Linked DNA regions of Homo sapiens. The protein of the gene in region 1 interacts with the protein of each later gene in a biochemical or structural test. Each region holds a gene or a part of one and is shown in the gene's direction. Other genes may lie near its edges.

Evidence for each region. The genes of interacting proteins can lie anywhere in the genome.
Region 2: the proteins of SUFU (region 1) and TRPV4 interact in a test that uses a peptide from one of them, tested with the Homo sapiens proteins (one large-scale study listed by BioGRID).

What each region holds. Positions count from the first base shown.
Region 1 is NC_000010.11:102,615,472-102,620,107, forward strand, and holds part of SUFU (suppressor of fused homolog), read left to right. Parts: intron 1-1,818; coding exon 1,819-1,957; intron 1,958-3,594; coding exon of another isoform or gene 3,595-3,600; exon of another isoform or gene 3,601-3,997; intron 3,998-4,636. UniProt on the Homo sapiens protein: Negative regulator in the hedgehog/smoothened signaling pathway. Down-regulates GLI1-mediated transactivation of target genes. Down-regulates GLI2-mediated transactivation of target genes. Part of a corepressor complex that acts on DNA-bound GLI1.
Region 2 is NC_000012.12:109,830,599-109,835,298, reverse strand, and holds the start of TRPV4 (transient receptor potential cation channel subfamily V member 4), read left to right. Parts: upstream 1-1,900; 5' UTR 1,901-1,949; exon of another isoform or gene 1,950-1,951; intron 1,952-4,700. UniProt on the Homo sapiens protein: Non-selective calcium permeant cation channel involved in osmotic sensitivity and mechanosensitivity. Activation by exposure to hypotonicity within the physiological range exhibits an outward rectification.

The sequences.
Region 1 (4,636 bases):
AGCCTCCCCAGCCCCCTCCCCCAGCAGGCGTCCTCCAGGGCCTCCAAGGAGCCACCAGGCCCGTGCTTCCCGTCTCCCTGTCTCCCTGATGAGGGTGAGGTGCCTGTTGGCAGCCTACACACCTAAGCAGGCTGGGTCTCAGGGAGGGAGGAGAGCTACTCCACATGGGGCCTGTTTAGGAGCCTGGGGACTGTGAACCAGCCAGTCGCCCCCATGTCACTGGGCCATGCGGTGTTCTCCTTGCCCAACCCTCTGGCTGGCCTAGGTGGTGAGAAGTCTGCCATGCTTCCTAGAGCGGGGCTCTCTTATCTGCATCTCCTGTCTAGCCCAGAGCAGCAACAGTCCCCAATGCGCCCAGCACTGTGACCAGAGAGCCCCACTGGTCTCCTATTGCTTGTTTGACAGACCTTCCTCGTTCGCAAGTTCTGGAGTCAGAATCCACAGGGAGAAGTATTCCTCAGCCCTGCTCCCCTTAGGAAGGCTCTGTGACCCAGGGAGTCTCAGGTGCCCCCAGCCACCGACAAGCCCAGGGCAGGGATGGCAGGGTCCCCAGTAGCACTGGTTTGTCAGGGTGGGGTTGGGTGGGTTGGGCTCTATTTTCTCCTGCTTGCTGCTTTTCCCATGCAAAACACTCAGTTCTAAAACCTAGTGGCCAGCCCAGCAAACTCCTTGAGGGACCAGGAAGCCCAGCTGTGTCCCTTCTGCTTCTGTCCACAGTGCCAAAAGCCCAGCCCTATGGCCAGAACTCAGCTCTGTGCTCAGGGCTGCTGCACGGCTGCATCTGCTACAGCTGGCTACCCCACAGCCCAGGGGCTCCACCCACACTTTGAGCAGCAGAGTCACCAAGAGTAATTCTAAACTCACAGAACAGTGACAGGGAAGAAGAACTTGCACACTTGGGGACTCCCCACTGTCCCCAGCACCTGGGAGTGAGTTTGAAGGGTAACTAGCCTTGGCCAGCCACCCTGGGCAGCAGACAGAGAGCAAATGGCCAGAATGAACAGGACCTGGAGGGGCCCACTGCCATCCCACAGCCACATCCTCCCCAGCCACTTCTCTGGCCCAGGCCCAGGGCCTTTCAACTGGTGAAGGGTTAATTGGAGGCAGCCTGAGAAGGCAGAGGGCAGGTTCCACTTCCTTTGCTGATGAGTGGCTCTGCCCATTAGCTGCCCCTGCCTGCCCCTCCCCCAGGTGTATTTCCAGACTAGGGATTAACAGTAACTTCTGTGGCTCCCTGAGTGACCCCACTTGGCTTCAGCTTGCTTGCTTGCTTTTTTTTTAAAGATGTGCTGTGGCCTTTGGGCCAGCCACTTGAATGTTATGGGAAAGCCCAGGAGCAGGTGGAAGATTCTGCCCTGGACACTGAAGGGTCCCACTGCGGAGGCACTATCCCATCGTCCCAGGGAAACTTGTCTAGACGCTACTTCACCTCCGTCCCCTAAGGGGGGATGTGACCCCCCTCTTACCTCTGGGCATGACCTTCAGCACATTGCTACCTTCCCTCTCTGCCCTCAATTTTCCTAAGGGAGGTGAGCTCCAGGATCTCTGCAGGGCTTTTGAACTCAGTGTTTTCTGCTAGCTTTGAGCACTTTGGAAGGATGATGTTAGAGAACTTGTGAGAGGAGCTTCTCTTTGAAGGTGTTGAAATGAGCGTGTTTGGATACAGTCCCCTGTTGATGGGCAGGTGGGCAGCCAGGAGGGCATGTTACCTGGCCCGCGGACCATAGTCCCCACTGTCCCAGAGCCTTGGCCAGGCCTGCTGTGCTTGGAACTGTTTCCAAGCCCAGCTCCTCACTGTCTCCATGTTCCCATCTCCAGGGGCAGGCTCCTGCATGGACGGCACTTTACATATAAAAGTATCACAGGTGACATGGCCATCACGTTTGTCTCCACGGGAGTGGAAGGCGCCTTTGCCACTGAGGAGCATCCTTACGCGGCTCATGGACCCTGGTTACAAGTGAGAAGGCCCTTTTTCTTCTCCCTCCTTCCTTTCATAGACTTCCTTGCCCACCCCTCCTCTTCTCCCTTGGCAGCTCTTGATGGCACCCCTTCCTGGGGGGCTGGTCATGAATGCCTCATGGATTCAGGGCCTGGGGCCTGTGTGTAGGTATGGAGTGTGGATGCTGCTACCCACTCCAGCAGCTTAGGAGCACTTCCTGACCTTCTCCCCCTGTCACCTGAGACACAAGTGTTAACTCTCCAGGCCCTGGCTCTTGGTAATTCTGGTTCCCCGTGGAAATCCAGGTTGGAGGGATATAAGACTTTCTGCACCTTGGGTAAACCAAGGTACAAGAACTCAAGGATGAAGCAAGATGGGAGGATGTGTGGAGGCCACTCTCCAATGGCTACATGGAAATCCCACCAGAATTCAGACAGTGGCATGTGTGCCTGGACCAGGGCTGGGCAGGCCTCAGTGGGAAGAGCCTCCCCTTCTTAGCCTACCCCCATCTGACAGCCCTCCCGTTCCTCCTGAGTTTGTGTGACCAGAGACCTGCTGGCTTATCCGGAGCACTTTGTCCTTCCTTTGCTCTTCTGGCTGGAGCGAGCTTCAGAGCTGTTGCCAAGCAGGGTACCAGGGCCTCAGAGCCATAGGCCTCCTTCCAGTCCCCACCCCGTCCCGGGTCTCTAACAGGTGCTCAACCTACTCCACCACACTCCCGAGTGTCTTGGAGGGACAGCATCCTTTTTTGGCATTTGTTTGTTGCGGGTGGGGAGAGGATTGAACCCTTAACCTCACCTCGCTCGCAAGTATCAAGAAAGGGAACCTGACCCTAAACCTAAAGGTGGCCATACCTGGTTTGTGAATGTATTGGAGAGGCATGCAGCATTACAGTAGAGGGGAAGAGAATGATGCTAGGTTTGTGAGTTTCACCCAGTCTGGGGAGTCTGTGAAGCATATGTAGTCAATACAGACACACTTTTTGTCCCTGCATGTCTACAGAATTTCTCCTCCTTCAGGCCAGGCCCCTCTTCTCCCGCCACCACCAAAATACAACCCTTAATTAAAACAAACAGCAAACAAAGGACACCAACCACACTCCCCAGACTAAGCCGAGATAGAAATGGAAGCTAGTGCTTTAGGGATATTGTGTTCCATAAATTATCTTGCCTTTTTCCACTGTTGTTATTATATCGTTTCATAACAAAATTACTTTGAACCATAAAGTTATAAATACATTTTAAAAGTCCCACTTGGTAACATTAGATTTCTGTCCATGTGGTGTTGGTAGTTACTGTAACAAAAGCTCTGAAGTGTAATATTTGAAATTAGCCCAGCACAAGTGGAAAGGGCCTCCCTCCATTCCCTACCCCCAGCCATGTCCCGGGCTGCTGCGTCTGCCCCTGTGGAGAACAGGGAGGGAGCAGGCCTGTCTCCTGGGCGGAGCTGCTGAGGAGGCTGGAGGTAAGGACAAGCCCCTGAGAGTTCACAGGTCATCATTCCCAAGTGTCCTCAGGTAGCGTGTGTGTGTGTGTGTGTGTGTGTGTGTGTGTGTGTGTGTGTGTGTGTAATGTTCAAGCACGTTTTCCTGGGACAGTCGGGACTGGGGCCTCCCCAAACTGCAGAATCTACCCAGTTATGTTTGACATCCTCAGCTCTGAACCTATCCTCGGAGCTCTGCCCTCCCGTCCTGGAACGTCTTTCTGCCCTGAGGAGAGGGTAGTCAGCATCTCCAATTTTCAGCAGCTCAAGAACCTTGGCCCCCACAGGACTTCGCAGATGTCACATTGCCCCTCAGTCCCCTGAATGCCCTTCGGACCCAACCCCAATTCCCCAAGCCCCTGACCCCCTAGCTGCCGGGGTTCCCACTCCCAGTGCCACAACCCCCTCACCTCCCTGGCAGCCCCTCAGCGAGCCTGAGGCCCAGCACCCGCTGGCTCCCCAGCACATGGTCCCCTCCCATGGGCTGTTGCCCAGGGAACCGGGGCGCGGTGGGAACGAGCTGCTGGCCTCGGCATGTTTCAATAAAGTTGCTGTGCTGGGAGCTACTCAATCAAAGGCCTGTGTTATGGGCTCATTAGTGTGGTCCACCACGGGGCCGGCTCACAGGAGAGCTCCTGGGAAGGCTGGCGGAGGCCCCACACCCCAAGCACCCACCCTTGATCACCGAGGGGTTTCTCAGGCCCTTTCCAAGGAGCCCTGGGAAACCCTCTGACCCTGCCCCCAGCCGGATTCTCAGCAGTGGAGCCAACACCCACACCAGCCCTCCTCCCCCTGCCAGGCAGTCAGCACTTTCTCCCTCTGACTGCCAGCCAGCCGCCCCTGTTAGGGTCCTGCCACTGTGGTCACAGGCAGCTCCCTTGCTTGTGGGAACCTGGGCTTGTAATTACTTGTGGGCCTCTAGATCTCCCTCTGGGGCTGGCTGTCTCCCTGGGAGTCTGCAGGACCTCCTAGAGGCCTGGGGTTAGACTTGCAGTCGCCAGTGAGGGCCACTCCACTGGGCCAAGGAGAGCCATAGGTCCCTCAGGAGGGGACCCCAGCACAAAGAGGCCCACCCTTGCTCCCTGCAGGCATCTCTTGCTCGCACCCCCAGGGTTCCGAGGTGTCTTCTTGGGCCTTGTGTGCCCAGGCCTATTGGAGGCAGAGGAGTAGGAAGGAGTGAAATCCAATAGACCCAGGACATGACGAGACCCAGTC
Region 2 (4,700 bases), on another chromosome or scaffold:
TTTCACTTTCCAGCTGTTGGACCTCAGGAGAGATGCTGCTATTTTCAAGCTGAGGAGGAAGGAGCTACCCCACAGTCCCTGAGTCAGCTCAATTTAGTGAAAACACTAATGATGAAAATGGCATGGCTCTGGGCCGGGCACGGCGGCTCACACCTGTAATCCCAGCACTTTGGGAGGCCAAAGTGGGTGGATCAACTGAGGTCAGGGGTTCAAGACCAGCCTGGCCAACATGGTGAAACCCTGTCTCTACTAAAAATACAAAAAATTAGCCTGGCGTGGTGGCGCATGCCTGTAATCCCAGCCCCCAGGAGGCTGAGGCAGGAGAATCGCTTGAACTCAGGAGGCAGAGGTTGCAGTGAGCTGAGATCACACCCCTGAACTCCAGCCTGGGCGACAGAGTAAGACTCTGTCTCAAAAAAAAAAAAAAAAGGGCTCTGCACAGCCTGGATGCTCCCAGCATCTTCACTGCGACTGTGAGGTGAGGACTTTTGTATGCCCCACTCTACAGGGGGATGTAGAGGCACTGAGGCACAAAGGTGAAGGGACTTGCATAGGGCTGCTGGGTTAGAGAGTCACAGAGCCAAGCTGTGGGCCTGCTAGGCTTTCCAACCACCCTGGAGGAAGTGAGCTGCCCATCCTGTGGAGGTATTCAAGTGGACTCAGTGCTGGGTAGAGGGTATGGCTATGTGTTGGGGCCCACCTTTGTTATCTGATAAAAGAAAATACATGGGTAGGTGTGGTGGCTCATGCCTATACTCTCAGTGCTTTGGGAGACTGAAGTGGGAGGATCACTTGAGGCCAGGAGTTGTAGACCGGCTGCCCTCCCCCACCCCCCCTTCTACAAAAAAATAAAAATTAGTGGGGTGTGGTGGCGCATGCCTGTACTCCCAGCTGCTCAGGAGGCTGAGGTGGGAGGATCTCTTGAGGCCAGGAGTTTGAGGCTGTAGTGAGCCGTGATCATGCCACTGCACTTCAACCTGGGTGACAAAGGGAGAACATGTATCAAAAATAATAATAATAATAAAAAAAATAAACAAAAACGCATTGAGCCAGGCACGGTGACTCAGACCTCTAATCCCAGCACTTTGGGAGGCCGAGGTGGGTAGATCGCTTGAGCCTGGAGTTTGAGACCAGCCTAGGCAACATAGTGAGACCCTATCTCTGCAAAAAATTTAAATAAAATTAGCCAAGCATGGTGGTAGGCGTCTGTGGTCTCAGTTACTAGGGAGGCTGATACGGGAGGATTGCTTGAACGCTGGTGGTTGAGGCTGCAGTGATTCCTGATCACGCCACCGCACTCCAGCCTGGGCAACAGAGTGAGACCCTGTCTCAAAAACAACAGCAACAAAACATTGATGGCCTACTCCGAGGCAGGCTTCGCAGTAAGCACTGGGTGAAGACCAAGGAGAGCAGCTCACATTTATTTACCCCTGAACCATCTCTATGGGCCATACCCGAGGGTAGGGACCTCCTTCAACGCCTCGGAGGAAATTGTCTGCTGAATGAATGAATGAGCAAACACGTGGAGGACTGGGCCGGGACGCCCATTTAGAGACTAGGACACAGTCCCAGGGCGGCCCGAAGTCACGGAGCAAGATCGAATCGGAGCCGATTCCAACTAGAGCCCTCTCCAAAGACCGTCTGCCGCTCTATCCGGGGATCGCGACACCCATTTTCCAGGCGAGGAAACTGAGGCCCTGGCCCTGCACCTCCCCCGCAGGGGAGGCCCTCGCTGGGCGGGCGGGGTGCGAGTAGGGGCCGCCCCTTCTAGGGCCTGCGCTCGGCGGGGTCCGCGAGCCGGCGGGTGGGCGGGGAGCTGGCCGGGGGCGGCGCGCGGCTGGAACCTGAGCCGGCGGAGGAGGGACCCGCGGGCGGACGGGCGCCGGGCGGGCCGGCCGGGATTCAGGAAGCGCGGATCTCCCGGCCGCCGGCGCCCAGCCGTCCCGGAGGTAAGTGGGGCCCGGGCCCGGGAGGGGCGGCTCAGCCGAGGTCCCCTCGCGCCCCTGGGGACATCTCCGTGGCCCGTCCGGCTCCGGGGGGTCCCGAGGCTCCAAAATGCGGGCCAGGGGCGCGGGAGACGGAAGGCACCAGGTTCCGCAGGCGCCAGCCTCTCAGCTAAGTGCCCTTGGGCCGGACACCGGCTCTTTGGGTCTCGGTTTTATCACCTGTGAAATGGGCACCAACGTGGGGCCTGGGGTAGCAGGTCTGGGGGGAGGGCGGTTCGGTTCCCTGAGACCCCAAGCCAGGGAACCAAAGGCCCGGAGCCTTGCAGCCCACCTTAGGAGACTTGGAAGAGGGATTTCGGGGGACCTAAGGTTTGCCCTTGGCCCCTGAGCATGTCGGAGGGAATTTGGAGTCTGGAGCTTCCAAAGGCTTCTTCTTGGTTACTGAGTCCCGGAGAGACGGCTGTTTCCTCCAAGAGGCATGAAAATCTTTAACCTCTAGTTCTGCCCTGGACTCTCAGGACGTCCCGGGGGCGGGTGGCTCCTGGGGGTGGGTAGCGGGGGTGGGGGTGGGGGAGAGAGAGACTCCCACACTCCCCGCTTGCCTGGAAACACCAACCACAGATGCATTCATCGAGCCACCCACTGCTCCAGCCTGCCCCAGCTGTTCCCTCTGTCTGTCCTCTCTGTTTTGCAGATGGGGAAACTGAGGCTTAGGTCGGGGATCTAGACAATTGGGATTTAAACCCAGGGACTATCCAGCCCCAAAGCCCTTCCCACCACACCAGGTGGCCTGTCCTGGGGCCAGCTCTGCACACAGGGCCTGGTGCCCCCGGGGTGCTTGGGAAGTGGCAGGGCAGAGGTGGGCCCTGTGGCTGTTCTGGCTCAGCTTCTAAAACAAGAGCCTCTGCTGGGGGCAGAGGGGCCGTGAACCCCTGAAATGTTAGGCAGATACCCTGTGGGAGCTTTGTTCTGGGATGCTAAGAACCGCTTGAGGATTTAAGCTTTGCCACTTTGGCTCCGGAGCAAGGGCAGAGGGTAAGTCGGGACTCCCCGGGCTCCTGAGGAGGGTGACGAGGTGGGCTTTTGGGGGAACAAGGGTAGAAAGGTCAGGCCTGGGTTATCTGCGGGGCTAAGAGCGGGCCTGTGTGGGGCCCGGGGTGTGCTCTGCAGTCCCCTGCTGTGTGACCTTGGCCTGGTCCCTTAGCTGTCTGAGCCTTTGTGTTCTCTCCTCTGTAATACTGGGGTGCCTGAGGGCAAGCCCCCAGGGCTGTCGTGAGGACCGATGACCTTCCAGGAACCTGGCACAGCCACTGTTGGCTGCCATCAATGTTTAACCAGTTGTCGTTGCCCCAAACATTTTCTTAACAAAGAGGGTGAAAAAAGTCAATTGGCCATTTCCACATTTCTCTAGTTCATTCTGTTTGAAGAATGATGGGAACCAGAAAGCCTGGACACCCACCTTGATTGGTGAATTGCACGCGGAAGGGGTCCCAGACACAAATGGCAAATGGCAGTCATAGTTCAGGGCGGTTCACTTTGTAAGATCAAGGTGGGGCTGTTTTGAAATGGAGGTAACCAGGGAATGGTTGCCTGAACAAAAAGGGTGTGATGCCCCCAGGAGGGATGTTTCACATGAGCTCCGGTGAGGATGGCTGGGATTCCCCAGGTGAAACCCAGATACCTTATATCTGGGGAAGGGGCTGTGGAGGTTCCTCCTGCCTTATCTGGTGCCAACTGGGCCTCTGCCACTTACTCCCTCCTCCAGCAAATGCTCTCTGCAAGCTCACCTGTGCCAGCTCTGGGCTGGGCACTGGAGCAGTGAGATGCTTCCAATCCCAGCTTCGCTGTAGCCTGAGGCGTGTGAAGGCAAGAAGGATTTTCCCTTGTGGCCCCCCGGGGAGGAGCTCCCACACCTGACTTGTGAGCATCTAGCAAGGTGTGCATGGATGGCCGACGCTTAGTAAATGTATGCTGTGGAATGGATGGGGTCAGGGGAGAATGCCGTAGGGTAGGAGGACTGGCCCAGGAAGGACCCACGAGGGCTTGGTCAAGGTAGTGTTTAAGCCGCACCTTAAAGAATAAATGCAGAAGTAGAGGAAAGAGTATTCAGGCAAAGAGAATGGCACTAGCAGAGATATGACTTTTACCTGTTACCAGGTGGCTACACCTGGGGTTTATAGAGCAGAGAAATAGTTCTGTTTGTCTGGAGTTTGTGACGTGACTGGAAAGGGTGAGGGATCAGACAGGCAGGAGCTAAATCAGACCCAGAGGCCCAGAAGTCCTGCCTGGGAGTGACACGGTTGTTTGTCTGTTCTAGAAAGGTCCCTGTGGCTGCAGAGTGGGAAAGATTGGAGGAGCTCAGACAGAGAGGCTGGCCCCAAGGCTGGGGAAGTCATCCAAGCTCTGAGTGGAGAGCGGCAGCTGGAAGGAGATGTAGGAGGGAAGGAAACACACAAGACTGAGCCTCATGTGCCTGGCACATAGTAGGTGCTCAGTCAGTATCTATGGCATGGTTGTCTGAACAAATACTTTTGAGATGGTCAAAGTCCTTTGAGTTCCTTCCTCTGTTCCTAGGGGGATGGGGTCTACATGAAGTGGGTGTCTCTACTCCATGCAGGCCCTTGACCCTGCTGTCTGCCTCAGTTTCCCCCATTTGACTTTGGGAAAGACACTCCAGTCCGTTCTCCAAATTATAGGGACCCAGGTAACAGCTCCTCTTGTTGTCACAGATAGGGTCTGGGGAGCCAAGATAAC